5 linked regions of the Homo sapiens genome follow. The protein of the gene in region 1 purifies or fractionates together with the protein of each later gene. This does not show direct contact. Each region holds a gene or a part of one and is shown in the gene's direction. Other genes may lie near its edges.

What was found.
Region 2: the proteins of RANBP3 (region 1) and RGPD1 fractionate together in Homo sapiens (co-fractionation; one large-scale study listed by BioGRID). This does not show direct contact.
Region 3: the proteins of RANBP3 (region 1) and PPAT fractionate together in Homo sapiens (co-fractionation; one large-scale study listed by BioGRID). This does not show direct contact.
Region 4: the proteins of RANBP3 (region 1) and RO60 fractionate together in Homo sapiens (co-fractionation; one large-scale study listed by BioGRID). This does not show direct contact.
Region 5: the proteins of RANBP3 (region 1) and KHK purify together in Homo sapiens (affinity purification with mass spectrometry, with the first as the bait; one large-scale study listed by BioGRID). This does not show direct contact.

The regions. Positions count from the first base shown.
Region 1 is NC_000019.10:5,968,136-5,971,652, reverse strand, and holds part of RANBP3 (ran-binding protein 3), read left to right. Parts: intron 1-3,517. UniProt on the Homo sapiens protein: Acts as a cofactor for XPO1/CRM1-mediated nuclear export, perhaps as export complex scaffolding protein. Bound to XPO1/CRM1, stabilizes the XPO1/CRM1-cargo interaction. In the absence of Ran-bound GTP prevents binding of XPO1/CRM1 to the nuclear pore complex.
Region 2 is NC_000002.12:86,948,612-86,952,128, forward strand, and holds part of RGPD1 (RANBP2-like and GRIP domain-containing protein 1), read left to right. Parts: intron 1-2,684; coding exon 2,685-2,749; intron 2,750-3,517.
Region 3 is NC_000004.12:56,425,613-56,429,129, reverse strand, and holds part of PPAT (amidophosphoribosyltransferase), read left to right. Parts: intron 1-124; coding exon of another isoform or gene 125-190; intron 191-3,517. Other genes in the region: PAICS (bifunctional phosphoribosylaminoimidazole carboxylase/phosphoribosylaminoimidazole succinocarboxamide synthetase), read right to left, coding at 125-190. UniProt on the Homo sapiens protein: Catalyzes the formation of phosphoribosylamine from phosphoribosylpyrophosphate (PRPP) and glutamine.
Region 4 is NC_000001.11:193,080,099-193,083,615, forward strand, and holds part of RO60 (RNA-binding protein RO60), read left to right. Parts: intron 1-1,265; coding exon 1,266-1,382; intron 1,383-2,087; coding exon 2,088-2,201; intron 2,202-2,463; coding exon 2,464-2,610; intron 2,611-3,517. UniProt on the Homo sapiens protein: RNA-binding protein that binds to misfolded non-coding RNAs, pre-5S rRNA, and several small cytoplasmic RNA molecules known as Y RNAs.
Region 5 is NC_000002.12:27,085,365-27,089,588, forward strand, and holds the start of KHK (ketohexokinase), read left to right. Parts: upstream 1-1,407; 5' UTR 1,408-1,895; coding exon 1,896-1,987; intron 1,988-4,224. Other genes in the region: EMILIN1 (EMILIN-1 precursor), read left to right, coding at 314-651. UniProt on the Homo sapiens protein: Catalyzes the phosphorylation of the ketose sugar fructose to fructose-1-phosphate.

The DNA.
Region 1 (3,517 bases):
GGCCCTGCAGTCCCCAAGACCTTTTCAAGGGGACTGCAAGTTCAAAACTATTTCATAACAACACAAAGACACTATCTGCTCTTTTTTCACTCTTATTCACTTGAAAATGGACAGTGGAGTTTTTTTCCAGAGGTTATTGGATGTGTGATATGCCAACAGATGAACTATAGAAGCAGATAAGAGAATTCAGGCCGGGCACAGTGGCAAACACCTGCAGTCCCAGCTACTTGGGAGGCTGAGGTGGGAGGATCTCTTGAGCCCAGGAGTTCAAAGCCAGCCTGGGCAACAAAGCCCCTCTCTTTAATAAAAAAAAAAGAGAGAGAATTCAGCTATCTTCTATTAAGTCAGACGTTAAAGACATTTGTCAAAATGTAAAATAATGCCACTCTTCTCAGATTTTTTTAAATACTTATTTTTCATAAAAATATGTTATTTAACTAAACCTTTCTGGAGTTTATTATAATCTTAAGTATTTTGAAATTGTCTTAGGTTTCATTTCTAATATGGTGTCAGTAGTAGCTACATCCCACATTTCCAAAAGCTCTTGGGGATGTTCAGTCATTGACAAGCGTGGAAAAGGGTCCCGAGACCAGGAAATTTGAGAACCACTGGCATGTGCTAGCAGAGCCTCAGTGTACAGTGTGGGTTTCTCCGCTGCCTTGCCAACATCGGGAGAATTCTAAACCAGAGCTGACCAGCAGGTTCCCATTGGCAACTTGTGGCATGGTTGGAAGCACCTGGATTGGCTGTCCTTGGTTTGTGTCTTGCCTTCTGCCCTAGAAACATGGGCAAGTTGTCTGACCTTAGCTCTTGCATCTGTAAAATGGGAACGATGATACGCAAGTCTGAGGATTGTGGTGTGAGAGAGAATATACTTCTGGTAATTGACCTACTGGAATGTGGAGATACATGTCAGTTACTTCTAGCTGTGATTCTCCTAATTGGATGCCTGAGTAGAGAGAAAGCACCCTGTGAGTTATACCAGGGTTTTTCCACCTCAGTATTCTTGACATTGGGGCTGGTGGTGGCCATCTTGTGCTTTGGAGGATGTTGGGTAGCCCCTCTAGCCTCTACTCATGTGATGCCATAGCACCCAGTCATCCCACCCATCCACTCCCAGTCATGAGAAGATAAAAGGTCTCCAGACACTGTCCAGTGTCCCCTTAATGTCAGAATTGCCCCCACTTGAGAACCATTGGGTTATGGGATTTCATTGACACCCAAGAGACTTTGTGTTCCATAGTTATCTAACCTACTGAGGTCGTAGGAGCCTGTACACATTTAAAGCCACAGTCTGAGTGGGGAGGGAGAGAGGCGGTGAATCCCAGAAGCCAGGGTGGGGGGTCACCCTGGTTTGTGCCATCTAATCTATTGGGGATTTATTTTGGTGTATAATGTGAGTTAGAGATCCAGCTCAATTTTTTTGCCCAAGATTAATGCAAGGTTTCTTGCCCTCAGCTCAGTTGACATTTGGACTTGGGTCACTTGCTGGTAGGGCACTGTTCTGAGCCTCCTAGGATGTTGGTCAGCATCCCTGGTCTCCATCCACTAGATGTCTGTAACAGTTTCCTCCACACCCCCACAAACATGACAGTCACAATGTCTCCAGATTTTGACCAGTGTCTCCAGGGAGATGAAGTTACTCCTGGGTGAGAACCACTGGTCATAGGATCAAAGGAACCTACCCAGGAATAAATTAATTGCCAGCTAGAGTTTAAGGCCCTTCCTCCCAACCTTATTTTTCTATTCTGGCCTTTTGGCAGCTGAGTAGGCCTCAATGGACATCATATCCCTCTTCAGGAAGAACAGTCTTTTCCTTGACCTTTAACACTGCCTCTGGTCCAGGGTGAGGACCTGACAGAATGTAAGGGCTGGGAAGAACCTTCAGGGATGCCTGAGTCCTGGCTGCACCATTTCACAGGGGCTGAAGCCCGAGGCCATGGAAGCAGGTAGGGCTGGCTAGGGCCAGTGCGCCTGTCTCCAGCCATGGAGTCTAGGAGTTCATGCTTGTCCTTCCCGGTGAGTCAGTAAACTCTAGGTAATGGGCACTCGTTCACCCCTGAAAACTGACCCGCGTAGGGCACTGCATTTCGCTGTCGCTGTTTATGGTGTTCAAAGAAAGGGAGGAAATTCTAGAGACAGTAGTAGTTACTCCATACACATGTTTAGAAGGCAGGCCTTGCCTTTTGCAGTAAGTTTAAAATGCCTTTGCTAAATTAAACTCCCCCAGGTTTGCCACAGAGAATTTTGGGAACTTATTTACCCAGAATTAATTCCTGCGTTGCATCTGTGAGAGCAGAGCGTGAGTGGAAACGGTCCTTGAGAACTTGCCTTTCTCTGGGGGAGAGGGTGAGAAAACAGGCAGTTACCCTCTGCTCAGAGGAGAGAGGATGTTTTGCAGCATTGATGGTGATGGCCACTGGGTCCTAAGAGTCCAGAGCCTGGGCCCCAACCTTTACACTGGATAAATCCAGATTTGTCAGCATGGCCTGCAAGGCTGAACGTCCTGTGGGCTCCACCCAGCCCTTCCCGTTCTCCTCCCCTCCAAACATGGGCCTCCAGGCTCTTCCTTTCCTTAGAACCTTTGACTTGGGGTCCCCTCTGCCTGGGATCCCCTGCCTTCACCTGGCTCATCCCTGCTCACCCTTCATGTGTGAGCTTCAGCGAGGCCTTACCCATTCACTCACTCTCTCCCACCATCCTGTGGTATTTTCTCTGCAGCACCCAGCTCCAGAACTACCCAGTTATCTCTGCACACAGCAGGTACTTGTTTGTTTTCTCTTTCCCAGTAGAGAGCTGCGGCCTTGTCTGCCATTTCTTTCCTGTCTCCAGTGGCAAGCTCGGTGCCTAGCACAAGTCTGTGCTTGGTAGATCCTGCTGGTGAGAGCAAGGCTTGGCTGCTCGGCTCGGCCTGCCTTCAGATCCCACCTGTTTCCTGTGACCTCAGAAGGGCTCAGGCATTCCGAGCACCTGAGCGTTTGCCTTGAGTGTCCCAGGCGTCCAGGCAGCTCTTGGATCCAACCATTCCACCCCCTAAAAGGGGTCAGACTCTGACGCATTTGTCGTTGCCGGGCACTGGCAGCTGTCCTTGAATCCAAGGCCTATGCTTTAAGGTGGCATCAATATGTTTGCAATCTTCCGAGCATAATAATGCTACCAGTGCCAGTGTGGAATCATCCTGTGTGCCAACCACTTCCCCAAACACGGCATGTGCAGCATTTCATTTCATCCTTGCCGAAGCTGCCTGGGGTGAAATAACAGCCCTGATATGCAAATGAAGACATTGTGCCAGAGGTACATTGTCTTATCTGGGATCCCAACCGCAAGTAAGTGGCCAGGGCAGGTTTGAACACACACAAAGACCAGAGCCCGCGCTCTCCAGTATCATCAGTTTTGCTCTGCTGCCTCAGCATAAATTCTGTAGTTCTTGGATTTCCTTCCTGTAAGCTTCCGTGTAGAGAGGAGGGGATTCCTGTTGTCTCTACTGGAACTTTCCCGAGTCTTCAGCCACTTGCAT
Region 2 (3,517 bases), on another chromosome or scaffold:
TCCCAGCTTGTACCCGGGACGCAGAGGTTGCAGTGAGCTGAGATCGAGCCACCGCACTCCAGCCTGGCGACAGAGCAAGACTCCATCTCAAAAAAAAAAAGGAAGCGGGGAACAAGCCTTGTTCCTTTATGTGCTGTCCTGACTGTTGTGTATTATTTTTGTTAAGATTGCTATAGTTCTTTTTTTTTTGAGATGGAGTCTTGCTCTGTCGCCAGTGCTGGGATTGCAGGTGTTAGCCTGGCATTGAGCAACGTTTTGTAATTTAAGCATACAAGTCTCTCACCTCCTTGTTTACATTTATTCCCAGGCATTTTTTTCATTTAGATGCGATTGTAAATGGAATTGCTTTCTTAATTTCCTTTTCTGATTGTTCGTTGCTGGTACAGTAGTCCCTTCTTATCCACAGTATTGCCTTACGTGGTTTTACTTACCTGCGTCACCCGTGGTCCAAAAATATTGAATGGAAGATTATATAAATAAACATTTCATGAGTTTTAAATTGCAAACAGTTCTGAATAACATGATAAAAATCTCACAGCCTCCTGCTCCGTCCTACCCAGGACACGAATCATCCCTTTGTCCAATATATTCATGCTGTATGTGCTCCCCACCCGCTAGTTACATACTAGCCATCTCAGTTATCAGATCAGTTGTTGGAGTATTGCAGTGCTTGTGTTCAAGTAACCCTTATTTTATTTAAAATGGCACCAAAGAGCAAGAATAGCGATGCTGGCAGTTCACATATGCCAGAGAGAAGCCATATAGTGCTTCCTTTAAGTGAAGAGGTGAGTTTTTGACTTAGGAAAGAAAAAAGATCGTATACTGGGGTTGCTAAGATCTACGGTAAGAACAAATCTTTTGTCCATGAAATTGTGAAGAAGGAAAAAGAAATTTGTGCTAGTTTTGTTGTGACACCCCAAACTGCAAAAGTTACAGCCACAGTGTGTGATAAGTGCTTTGTTGAGATGGACAAGACATTAAATTTGTGGGTGGAGGACACAAACAGGAAACATGTTTCGATTGATGGCAACCTGGTTTGATACTGTTCATCGTTTTGGACATTCACTGGGGTCTTGGAATTTCAAAAATAAGATGTTTGAGTGGCTGTATACTCTTTATCACATGGATGGAACATACTCTGGTTGTATCAGCTTTTTTTTTTTTTTTTTTTTTTTTTTTTGAGATGGAATCATTCTGTTGCCCAGGCTGGAGTGCAGTGGTGCGGTCTTGGCCCACTGCTGCCTCCCGGGTTCAGGCGATTCTTTGCCTCAGCCTCCCAAGCAGCGGGGATTACAGGCGTGTGCCACCATGCCCAGCTAATTTTTGTATTTTTAGTAGAAAGGAGGTTTCTGCATGTTGGCCAGGCTGGTCTCGAACTCTTGGCTTCAAGTGATCCACCCGCCTCAGTCTCCGAAAGTGCTGGGATTACAGGTGTGAGCCACCGCACCCAGCCTGGTGTGCATCAGCATTTTGGACTTTGGAGTTTACGTAACCAAGGAGCCAGGCTGTGGACCTTGTTTATTACTTGAAGAATTCAATATTTATTTCTGCCTTTTTGACTCCTTGACTGTAAAATACTGATCTGATCTGTAGAGAGAACAGTACATGTACTATTAAGGCACAGGGAATCCTCAGTGCCTTAATAGATCGTAAGTACTTACTTATTCTTTCCCATAGAGGCTTACACATGGTAGGAGAAGAGATTTCTGGAATACCTTTCCTCCCCAAAGAAAGCTGGTTTCTTTTGTTTGTTAAGTGAGAGAGTGGTACCACAGGGTTTCCAAGATTTCCAAGGCTGATGAAAATTCTTAACTTCTGTTGTCTGCTTGTCTTGCTTTCTTGAATTTATTTTTTGTATGTTATGTATTTATTATTTAGAGACAGGATCTCCCTGTGTCACCCAGGCTGGAGTGCAGTGTCACAGTCATAACTCACGGCAGTGTCAACCTCCTGGGCTCAAGTGATTCTCCTTCCTTGGCCTCCTGAGTAGCTAGGAACACAGGCATGCTCCACTATGCCTGGCTATTTTTTTCCCCCTGGAGACAGGATCTTGTTGTGTTGCACAGGCTGGTTTCAAACTCTTGGCCTCAAAGCTAGCCTCCCACCTTGGTCTCTGAAAGTGCTAGAATTAAATAGAATTAAAGGTGTGACCAACTGCACCCAGCTTATTTATGATGACGATGATGATGATGTTTGGGAGATGGAGTCTCTGTCGCCCAGGCTGGAGTGCGATGGCACGATCTCAGCTGACTGCAACCTCTGGCTCACTGCAACCTCCACCTCCTGGGTTCAACTGATTCTCGTGCCTTAGCCTCCCGAGTAGCTGGGATTACAGGCACCCGCCATCATGCCTGGCTAATTTTTCTATTTTTGTAGAGACGGAGTTTCACCATGTTATAACGCCAGGCTGGTCTCAAACTCCTGACCTCAGGTGATCCGCCCACTTCGGCCTCCCAAAGTGCTGGGATTACAGGCATGAGCCGCTGCACCCAGCTCTATTTTTTGTTTTGTGATAGGAAATTATAAAACATGGAATTATGCATTTGTCAGGCTTTAAAAAAAACTTTTAAGTGAATGAAAATGGCATATTTGAACATAAACTTAGGGCAGATTTTTACTACTTTTGAAAAAATGTTGGAGAATATTTCTGTATGAAACGTAAAACAACTTTTAATTTTTTTTAGAAGTTGAGAGGATTCTATTTTGCAAAGCTGTATTATGAAGCTAAAGAATATGATCTTGCTAAAAAGTAAGTACAAACTGTAACATGTATTCTTTTTTTAAAATCAATGCCTTTTCTCATTTTCTTCTTTGAAATAGGTAAAAATATGTTCTTAGTAGTTCTTCCTAAGTGTATTCTGGAATAAGGGATTTATCACTCAGACTGATGCTAAGGACCAGCCTAGATTCCATTGAGATTGAAACCGTAATTAGTGTTTTCTGCATGCTGCTGCTTTATACCAAGGGCAAGAAATTGTTTGGCTTAAAACACTTTTTCTAAAAATTGTCTTCTGTTGGAGTAAAAGAGGACCATGCCTATATCTTCATTTGTTTTTGGTTAGATATCTGATACCTTAATCAGATGGAAAATAGCAATGAATAAAAAACTGTAATTGTAAGGCAGGAGAATAGCTTGTATAAAAGATCTTTAATTGACACAATATGTGATGCTCTAAGGCTCTATCCTAGGGATAAGAAGCTTGGTGATTCTGATTTCCTGACTGGGAGTGGATTAAAGCAGGAAATTAAGAGGGAGGCAGGGTTTTTTTTTTTTTTTTTTTTTTTTTAGGCAGTATCTGTCTCTCTTGCTCAGGCTGGAGTGCAGCAGCTGGCTCCATCTTTGCTCACTGTAACCTCTGCCTTCTGGGCTCAAGAGATCTTCCCACCTCAGCGCCCCAAGTAGCTGGGGATACAGATGAGCACCACCACACCTGGCTAAGGTTTGCATTTTTTGGTAGAGACAGGTGTCACTATGTTGCCCAGGCTAGTCTTGAACTTCTGAGCACAGCAGTCTGCC
Region 3 (3,517 bases), on another chromosome or scaffold:
ACAGTTCATAAACAATATATTTAGTCTAATTTATCAAGGACAGGAATAAATATCTCTGTTATCAGGAAAAAGCAACAAGTTGTTTCCACTGTGTGGAAGAACTTGTTATTTCTCTGGCTCTTACCATCTTCATGTGCTTTTCTCTTGAAGCTCAAAGTTCCTTGGCTTTTGTTGTGACCTTCAAATAATTCTTAAATAAAAACACAGGAAAAGAATCATTATGTGACATCATTTGAAACACATTAATGGTTTTCAAGCATTCAGGTATACTAAAATAAGAAAACTTAAGCAGATGGACAAATAAAGAATGAGTTAAGAATTAGGAATATTTTGGTACAAGGTTTAGAAAAAAGTTGAAACTCTTGGCTTAAATTAGGTACCTATTTTTAATGATTTTTAAGGGTCATTTGAGCATACAATAGTGTAAGGATTTCATTTTTAAAGAGTTTTTCTCTTGCTAAATGAAAATGCAAAGAGGAATGTCTAGAATTTTTTTTGTTAATGTCAATTCCAAAGTTACCATGTCTCCATTTGGCAGTTCTGAGAGTTGGTTTTCTTAGGATGCAGTCAACTTCTTCATAAAATCTCATTTTTCTTGGAGGGTTGCCATTTTTTCTTTGTAAAATGCTATATTCATATTTTACATTTTTATATTTCGTATGACATTGTTTCCGGTCTCTGTCTATCCCAAACTGCATTAATTAATCTTCTGGCAATTTCCTCAAATATTTTCTTGTTTCTTGTGGCCCCTTCAAGCATTCGCTTAATTTTTTCATCAGACCATATCAATGCTCTGACCTCACTGTCACACCAGTATTTTCCGGCCTCTGTGTTACTCACTGTTATAATCTGTAAATGACTTTTAGCATCTTCTAAAGGATTACCTACAAATCAACATGATTTATAATTATTCAAACATAGATAAATCTTGTATTTGATTATCATTCACTTAAAGCAACTGTGATGGCATAAAGTACCAAGAATACAATAATAACTTCAATATGAGTCAAAAGAAATTTTGTGTCCATATTCAAACAGTATATTCTAAAAATTATAAGACAGACTGTTCTCATTATTAGTGAGAAAATTTAGCTGCTTTTCATCATAGGTGATCTTCACTGGATATTTGTGAATATGGAAAGTCCCAGTGTTTACTAAATTTCTTTTAGTGAGAAGTGGGCATAGACATTTTCCTTCTTTCTCTACTGTATTCTCTACCAACTCAGGTATAAGGAAGCATTTTAGGTAATACACAATAGAGATCTTCTCTGTTAGACTTCATATATCAAAATGACATTTAAAATTTACCAATTTAGACCCTGCAGTGGACCCAGTATTATTTTGGGGTGATGATGTGCAGCAGGGGGTGACAGGGGGAAGGCATACTCCACAATGCTTTCTAACAGTGAGTTCCTCTCATCTTAAATTCTCCTAGGTTTTAATTCTGAATAATTTTTCAGCCTTATGAATTTTTTTTTTTTTTTTTTAAGAGACAGGGTCTCACTATGTTGCCGAGGCTGGCGTGGACCTCCTGAGCTCAAGCGATCCTCCTGCCTCAGCCTCCCAAGTAGCTGGCACTACAGGTGCCTACCACCATGCCTAGTGCCTCATGGAAATTTGAAAATGTGTTTAAATCACTCTTGTTGGATATAATTTTTAAAAGATGGTGATAGAAATGTAAAATGGTGAAGTCATGGTGGAAAACAGGTAGTTCCTCAGAAACTTTCAGCATATGCCATATGACCAAGCAATTCCACTCCTACATATAAACCCAGAAGAACTGAAAACATGTTCACATAAAAACATATACATGCTGTGGAAAAACAGTACTGCAGGTCCTAAAAAAATTAAACACAAATTACCATATGATCAACAATTTCGCTTCTGGGTATATACCCAAAAGAATTGAAAGCAGGGACTCAAGCAGATATTTATACATCCACATTCATAGCAGAGTTATTGATAATAGCCGAAAGGCAGAAACAACCCAGATAACCATCGATGGATGAATAAACAAAATGGTGTATCCATACAATGGAATATTAAAATGAAGGAAATTCTGATAAATGCTACAACATGGAGGAGCCCTAAAGATATTATAAGTGAAATAAGCCAGGCACAAATGGACGAATATTGTATGATTCCACTTATATGAGGTACCTAGAATAGTCAAATTCACAAAGATGGAAAGGAGAATAGTGGTCACCACAGGCTAAGGAGAGTTGGGATGGAGGAGTTATTGTTTAATGGCTACAGAAGTTTCAGTTTGGAATGATGAAAAAGCTCTGGAGATGGAGAGTGGTGATGTTTGCACAACAACGTGAACGTACTTATGGGTATAATGGTAAATATTTTATGTATATTTTACCAAAATGGGAAAAAAATTGTACCAGAATGTTCATAGCAACAGTATTCATAGGAGCCAGAAAATGGCAGTGACCCAAATGTCTGTCAGTTGATAAGTGGGAAAACAAAATATGGTATATCTGTAAATTGGAATATTATTCAGCCATAAAAAGGAATGAAATACTGATATATGCTACAACGTGGATGAACCGTGAAACAAAAGAAGCCAGACACAAAAATGTATATTGGAGGGTACCACTCATGTCCAGAATAGGCAAATTCTTAGAAACAGAAAGTTGGTTAGTGGTTGTCAGGGGTTACAGAGGTGTGGTCAAGCAGTTAAACTACTGATGGATATGGGGTTTCTTTCTTTTTTTTTTTTGAGACAGAGTCTTGCTCAGTCGCCCAGGCTGGAGTGCAGTGGTGTGACCACGGCTCACTGCAACCTCCGCCTCCTGGGTTCAAGTGATTCTCCTGCCTCAGCCTCCCGAGTAGCTGAGACCACAGGTGCGCGGCCACCACGCCCAGCTAATTTTTGTATTTTTAGTAGAGATGGGGTTTCACCATGTTGGCCAGGATGGTCTTGATCTCTTGACCTCGTGTTCTGCCTGCCTTGGCCTCCCACAGTGTTGGGATTACAGGCGTTAGCCACCGTGCCTGGCAGATACGGGATTTCTTTGTGGGGTGATCAAAATGTTCTAAAATGGGATACTGGTGATTATTGTATAACTGTGGATATACTAAAAACCACAGTTATACGCTTTAGTTGGGTGAATTTGATTGTATGTAAATCACATCTCAGAAAAGTTGCTGAGGTTTGAGAATAGAAAAGTAAAGACAAGTCAAGTGTAGAGGTTAATGCAGTGATGTCTGTGGGAAGTTATAAAGGAACTAAGGAAACATGAACTGCATTGTACGGAGCTTCCAAATCTTCCTCTAAGCCAGAGTTTTTATGATGTGATTGATTAAGTCATTGGCTGCAAGATGGAACTCAACCTCCAGCCCCACTCTCCTTCATGGAGGTCACACTGGCACAAAGCTCCAACCCTCATCACATGGTCGGTCTTTTTCGGTGACTACCCCCTATCCTGAAGCTATCTGGGAACCCACCTAGAGTAGCCTCATTAACACAACAAAGATGCCTCTGTCTCTGGAAGTTCCAAAGGTTGTT
Region 4 (3,517 bases), on another chromosome or scaffold:
CCACCCTGGGCAACAAGAGTGAAACTCTGTCTCAAAAAACAAAAAAAAAACATGAAAAATACTCAACATCATTAATAATCAGAGAAATGCAAATCAAGATGACAGTGTAATAACTACTTCACATCTAGTTGGATAGCTAATATCAAAAAAGCAGAAAACAAGAGTTGGGGAAGATGTGGAGAAATTGGAACCCTAGTGTATTTCTGGTGGGAATGTAAAATGGTAAAATGGTGTAGCCCCTGTGGAAAACAATTTGGCAGTTCTCAAAAGGTTAAACGTAGAATTACCATACCATCCAGCAATTCCATTTCTAGGTATATACCCAAAAGAATTGTAAACAGGTATTCAAACAGATATCTGTATACCAGTAGTCACAGTAGCATTATTCACAATAGCCAAGAGTTAAATGTATTCTTGTCTTTTATTTTTGATGCTATTGTGAACAAATGTTTTCTTAGTTTTCTTTTTTGAATTGTTCATTGCTAGTATATAGAAATACAACTGATTTTGATGAACAACCCAAATGTTCATCAGCAGATGGATAAGCAAAATGTGGTATATATAATGGAATATTATTCAGCCTTAGAAAAGAATTAAATTTGATACATGCTACACCATGGATAAATCTCGAAAAGATTATACTAAGTAAAATAAGCCAGACAAACAAGGACAAGTATTGTATGATTCCATTATATGAGATATCTACAGCAGGAAAATTTATAGAGACAGAAAGTGGAATAGAAGTTGCCAGGGGCTAGGGAGAGACATGGCAATGGGGAGTTACTACCTAATTGGTACAAGTTCTATTTGGGATGATGAAAAAGTTCTTGAAATAGATAGAGGTGATAGTTACACAACATTGCGAATGTACTTAATGCCACCAAATTGTACATCTAAAAATGGTTAAAAAGGTCAAATTTATGTTATATTTTACCACAATAAAAATTTCCTACTAAAAATTCTCATTTTACTTCAATGAGGAAAGATTTTAAAAATAGGATGGTAACTTATTTAACTAAAATTATTGAATAGGTTATTTCCTTTGTTTTACCTGTAAAAGCTAAGTATTTTTATTATTTTTTTTTAATTTTCAGTCATAGCTGCTATGCCAGATGAGCATTTTTAAATAGTTGTCAATTGGTATATCAAAAATCTGAAGGCCTTTTATCAGTCTTTTTAATGTAAGATAAGTAAATATGATTTAGAAATTTAGTCTACTTATAATTTCTGTTATGCTTTTAATGATTGTTTTGTTTTCTCTGTAGACAGTTGAACCAACTGGAAAACGTTTCTTACTAGCTGTTGATGTCAGTGCTTCTATGAACCAAAGAGTTTTGGGTAGTATACTCAACGCTAGTACAGTTGCTGCAGCAATGTGCATGGTGAGAACACCTAAGACAATTTTGCCATTCTAAAAACATGTTTACTGTAGAGCAAAACTATAAGATTAATAATGATTAAGAATTATGTTTTCACTTTTTTCTGTCATTTCAGCTTGTCACATTTTTAATTTTATATTTAAAGATAATTGTGTAAAGCCAGAGTGTTAAGTGTGTTGAAAAAGTATGTCTAAAGAACAAGCAGAGTAGAAATTTTAATTTTTACAACAAAAGATTAAATATTAATGGATTTTTTAGGAAGTAGATAATGCTTAGATAAAATGAAAAAAAGACAAATTTTTTAAAAATTTATTTTAAAAATAATGCTTAAATTATTTAACGATTTGAAGCTTAAAAGATCTGGGAACTAATAGGAGTGTCTAGAGACTTTAGTTCTATCCTGTCAGTGAATAACAAACAGATGAATAGTAGGCAAACTTTTTAGCTTCTTTACTGGGGCTTTATTTCTTATCTAATGAAATGAGAAGAATATTTACTGTATTTGCTTCAAAGGATAGTCATGATAGCCAGTTTTTTTGTGAAAGTACTTTGAAAGCTGTACTACTGTTAATGTATAGTTCTAAAACACACTAATAAAAAGTTAAGAAATAAACATCAGTGTTTCTTTTAAACATGAAGTTGGATAAAATTCAAAATATTGTATTTCCCCCCAAATTTGCTGAAAATTACTGCCATTGAATTTTTCAGGTTGTCACACGAACAGAAAAAGATTCTTATGTAGTTGCTTTTTCCGATGAAATGGTACCATGTCCAGTGACTACAGATATGACCTTACAACAGGTTTTAATGGCTATGAGTCAGGTAAGAAACTGTGTTTTTTAAGTTTACTTAGTTAAGTTTACATAACGTGTAGAATGATTTTATATTGATGTCATGTATGGTATTAATCTGTGAGAACAAAATTTTTTTTGTCTTAATTTTTGCATGACAAGTACAAAACCGAAAATATATATGCAGGCTTTGGGAAGGCTGTATATATTGGTGCTAAACAAAATGATACTGTAAAAACTAGTATTTTTAAGGATTTATTTACTTATTTATTCATGCTTTTGTTCCGAATTAGATCCCAGCAGGTGGAACTGATTGCTCTCTTCCAATGATCTGGGCTCAGAAGACAAACACACCTGCTGATGTCTTCATTGTATTCACTGATAATGAGACCTTTGCTGGAGGTGTCCATCCTGCTATTGCTCTGAGGGAGTATCGAAAGGTAAAACAAATTCTAATACGGTTCCTCACCCAAATAATATTATTTTAATACTTGATTTTTTTTTTTTTTTTTTGGAGACAGGACCTCATTCTGTTGCCCTGGCTGGAGTGCAGTGGCTCAGTCATAGCTCACTGCAACCTCAACCTCCCAGGCTTAAGTGATTCTCCCACCACAGCCTCCCAAGTAGCTGGAACTACAGGAGCGTGCCACCATGCCCACCTAATTTTTTGTAGGAATGGGGTTTCACCATGTTGCCCAGGCTGGTCTCAAACTCCTAGGCTCAAGCGATTCTCCAGCCTTGGCTTCCCAACGTGCTGGGATTACAGCCACCACACCTGGCCATTCTTGATTCTTATTCACTTATGTGTTTCAAAAAATGTTACTACAAGTAGTTCTGTATCTTATATAGGAGCCAGTGTCCGTTATAGACTCAGCAGTACTTAAAATAAGAAAAAGTATTGATTACACACATAAAATTTATTTTAACCAGTTTCCATTGCTAAACATTACTAAGAATATCCTTTGCAAACAGTATTTTTGGTAATAATCAGAATATTTGTTTTACCTTAGCTGTAAGTTTTTTTTAATAATTCAGTGTGCTCCTTGAAAAATTGAAAGTATTAGTGAGTTTTGCAAAAGGATTACATAAAATTAAAGCTATAATCTATGCTCTATGTTTTATGGACATATCTGTGTTCTAATCAGTATCCTCCAGTTGAGCTTTCTGAAATGACATAAATCTTCACTCTCCAATGTGGGTTGCCACTAATCACATGGGACTTTTGAGCACTTAAAATATGGCTAGTGTGACTAGAAGTAGAAATAGAACTTGTTGATGAAGAGTAGTGGTTCTCAAAGTGTGGTTTCCCTACCAGCAGTCTTAGCCTCACCTGCGACCGTATTAGAA
Region 5 (4,224 bases), on another chromosome or scaffold:
TTCTTGCCTTTTCCGACAGTGTGAATCTTCATTCTCTGATTTGGGGAGACCCCGGCTCTTTCTTCATTTATTCATTCTCAGGCAGTGGGGAGAAGAAGTAGTCATTCATTCATTCAGCAGATCTTTACTGGGGCCTGCTCCTGCCCAGGCACTGTTTTAAGTGCTGGGAATGCATAGTGAACAAAGCCCCCAGTTCCCTGCCGCTCACATTCCAGTGAGGTGAAAAGACCCAGAGGGTCCCTCCTCAGTCCAGGAGTTCTGGTGCGCTCCCCGGAGCTTCCCTGGCCCCCCTGACTGCTATCCTTGTCCCCAGGCGTGTTCACAGCGCCACTGGCTGGACGCTACTTGCTGAGCGCGGTGCTGACTGGGCACCGGCACGAGAAAGTGGAGGCCGTGCTGTCCCGCTCCAACCAGGGCGTGGCCCGCGTAGACTCCGGTGGCTACGAGCCTGAGGGCCTGGAGAATAAGCCGGTGGCCGAGAGCCAGCCCAGCCCGGGCACCCTGGGCGTCTTCAGCCTCATCCTGCCGCTGCAGGCCGGGGACACGGTCTGCGTCGACCTGGTCATGGGGCAGCTGGCGCACTCGGAGGAGCCGCTCACCATCTTCAGCGGGGCCCTGCTCTATGGGGACCCAGAGCTTGAACACGCGTAGACTGGGGTCCCGCCCGACGTGTCTACGTCGGCTGAAGAGACAGCGGGGGCGGCGGGCTCCTGGGGTCTCGCCTGAGACGGGGCACCTAGCCCTGGGCGAGCGCCGCACCCGGGCCCGCAGCGGCACCGCGCCCAGAGCGGCCTCTCCCCACGCCCGGGGCGCGCCGGCTCAGGGAGGCTCGGGGCCGCCCATGCAGACTTTTGGCCTGGCGCGATCCCCCAAGAACCCCTCCAGGGCCGGCCTGCGGAGGAGCCGATCCTCGCACCCTCCGCTCCCTCCACTGGCCCTCCAGGTCGATTCCCTGGGCTCCAGGCTCCCCCGCGCGGGCGCCGCCCACCGCCATACTAAACGATCGAGGAATAAAGACACTTGGTTTTTCTAAAAAAAACTAAACGAACCGTTCTGCTACGGTACGGGGTCGGGGGCTGCCGGGCGTGCACAGGGCACGGGGCGGGAGAGACGACGGCCTCCGGAGAGGACCCCGGGTTCCGCACTGCGTTCGCCGCCTCCGCCCGGCTCGGGGCGGCTCGGGGTTGGCTCAGGCAGCAAGCGGCGCCCGCCCGGCTCCTGCGACGTCTCCCCCGTGTCACGCCCGTTTCGCCGGCGTCCGCCAGGGGGCGCTCTGCGTTCCCGCCACGTGAGGCTGCGGCCCACCCGGCGGGTCCTGCTCCTCCGCGGCGGAGGCGTGGCCTCGGCTGGGACTAACCGGGGCGGGGCGGGGCGGGGCGGGGCGGGGCCGCCGCGACCGCGGGCTTCAGGCAGGGCTGCAGATGCGAGGCCCAGCTGTACCTCGCGTGTCCCGGGTCGGGAGTCGGAGACGCAGGTGCAGGAGAGTGCGGGGCAAGTAGCGCATTTTCTCTTTGCATTCTCGAGATCGCTTAGCCGCGCTTTAAAAAGGTTTGCATCAGCTGTGAGTCCATCTGACAAGCGAGGAAACTAAGGCTGAGAAGTGGGAGGCGTTGCCATCTGCAGGCCCAGGCAACCTGCTACGGGAAGACCGGGGACCAAGACCTCTGGGTTGGCTTTCCTAGACCCGCTCGGGTCTTCGGGTGTCGCGAGGAAGGGCCCTGCTCCTTTCGTTCCCTGCACCCCTGGCCGCTGCAGGTGGCTCCCTGGAGGAGGAGCTCCCACGCGGAGGAGGAGCCAGGGCAGCTGGGAGCGGGGACACCATCCTCCTGGATAAGAGGCAGAGGCCGGGAGGAACCCCGTCAGCCGGGCGGGCAGGAAGCTCTGGGAGTAGCCTCATGGAAGAGAAGCAGATCCTGTGCGTGGGGCTAGTGGTGCTGGACGTCATCAGCCTGGTGGACAAGTACCCTAAGGAGGACTCGGAGATAAGGTAGGGGCGCCCAGGTCCCCTAGGGGACCCCAGGGGCTGCTGCAGTCCAGCATTTGTGCCAGCGACCGAGGCTGCAGAGACCCCGCAGTGAGGCCCTGAGAACCCGGCTTCAAGGCCGGACCCGCGCCCTCTACCCGGGAATCCTGGGGGGGCTCCCAGCATGACAGAAGAGAGGAAGGAATTGAGGCCTTTAATAAGAAGACCCAGGATTTAATAGCATCGTGTTAGCCAATTTCCATTTCAACTCAGGCATCAGGTGTCAGGTGTCAGGCATCAGGATCCCCATTTTACTGATAAGTATAGATTCAGAGACCAAGGGGCTTATCCAGGGGCACACAGCTACCTGCTTCTGCTGTTTCTTTTTAAACCCCAAGCCTATGCACTTGCCTCTCATCAACATTTACTTCTAACTTATTTATCCACATATCTCGCACCTATTTCTGAGAAAGATTTGAGGTAGCTTACAGTAAAAAGTATGTACAGTTAAACTGTTGGAGAACATTTAAGACCATGGTATTTGAGCTTCAACTATAGCTCAGGGCTTGCTGGCACTGGAGGCAAACATGAGATGCCATGGGTTATGTATGGATAGAGCTGGTTCATGAGCCCTGGCAAGCTTTTTCCTGGTGCTAAATTCCAAGAGGAGTTTACCAGAAGTCCTTTTCACAGAGGTCAATGAACACCGTTTAGTAGTGGGAAATATCTTTCTCAGTTGTCTGCTAGAAACTGAAGAGTCAGTTGTTGGTTCTTTTTTTTTTTTTTTTTTTTTTTTTTTGAGACAGGGTCTCATTCTGTCGTCCAGGCTGGAGTGCAGTGGTGCAACCATGCTCACTGCAGCCTTGACCTCCAGACTCAAGTGATCCTCCCACCTCAGCCTCCTGAGTAGCTGGGACCACACATGCACGTCACCATCCCAGCTGTATTTTAAATTTTGTATAAGGGACGGGTTCTCACTATACTGATCAGAGTGGTCTTGAGCTCCTGGGCTCAAGCAGTCCTCCTGCTTTGGCCTCTCAAAGTACTGGGATTACAGGCATGAGCCACTGCACCCAGCCGATTTGTTGGTTCTTTTTCTTTTTGAGACAGAGTCTCGCTCTGTTGCCCAGGCTGGAATGCAGTGGCATGATCTTGGCTCACTGCAACCTCCGCCTCCTGGATTCAAGCGATTCTCCTGCCTCAACCTCCTGGGTAGCTGGGATTATAGGCATACGCCACCATGCCCCACTAATTTTTTTTTTCTTTTGTAGAGACAGGGCTTTTCTTTGTAAAGACATGTTGGCCATGCTGGTCTCAAACTTCTAATCTCAAGTGATCTGCCCGTCTCAGTCCCCCAAAGTGCTGGGATTACAGGCATGAGCCACCACACCCGGCTTATTGGTTCTTGTATTTCCTCTTGATAAGGGCCCCACCATTACACTGTAATGCTGTGAAGGCATTTCTGTGGGGCGGGACACTAGCTTTCTCTTGGTGCAGTCAGTGAGTGCTTAGAACACTGAGAATTGCTCCTGGGCTATATCAGTTGTCGCAGCTAAGAACTGGATAAGAGGCAGTTCAAGACTGAACTCCACAAAGACACGACAGTGCTGATGGCTGCCAGGCTAACTGAGGTGAGAGACCCCGACACTCCTCAGGCTTTGGGGCCACAAAGCACCATCACATATATTATTTTATACTCTCCTCCCAGCAGCCCATGGGAACTGTGTAAAGATCAGTGAAATCCTTTATACAGATAAGGAAGCTGAAGATTTGGAGATGTTTTTTAAGGCCACGGAGTTAAATGGTGGCACAGTGGCAGCTGCAGCTCGAGTCTCCTAGTGTGGAGTCCAGGGTCCCTGCCCTCTGTCATCTCCTGTATACCCTGTCCCTTTGCTGTTGACCATCTCTTGGAGTTGACCCTTTGCTTTGGTTTGCCAGAGGTTAGGGCCCCTTGCCAGGGGTGCAGGGACTGGGGAAGGGGCACGGGCATGCCACTGTGTAGACCTAACCCACTGTGCAAGGTCGAGGCAGCCACAGGACATGGCACTCAGTGAGGAGTTGGGTTCATCTCAGGGCAACAGTGCAAATTCCAGGGCCACAGGTTCTCCAAGGACCGTGGAGAGCCTGGGAAAAGACTCAGCGCCTCTTTCTGTCAGAGCTGAAGTCCCATTTCCTCTCAGCTTAATTCTGTCGGGAAGGTAGGAGAAGGAGGTCCTGCTAGCACCCACACTGATGGGGCAGGTTCTGAAGGTGGGCACTGA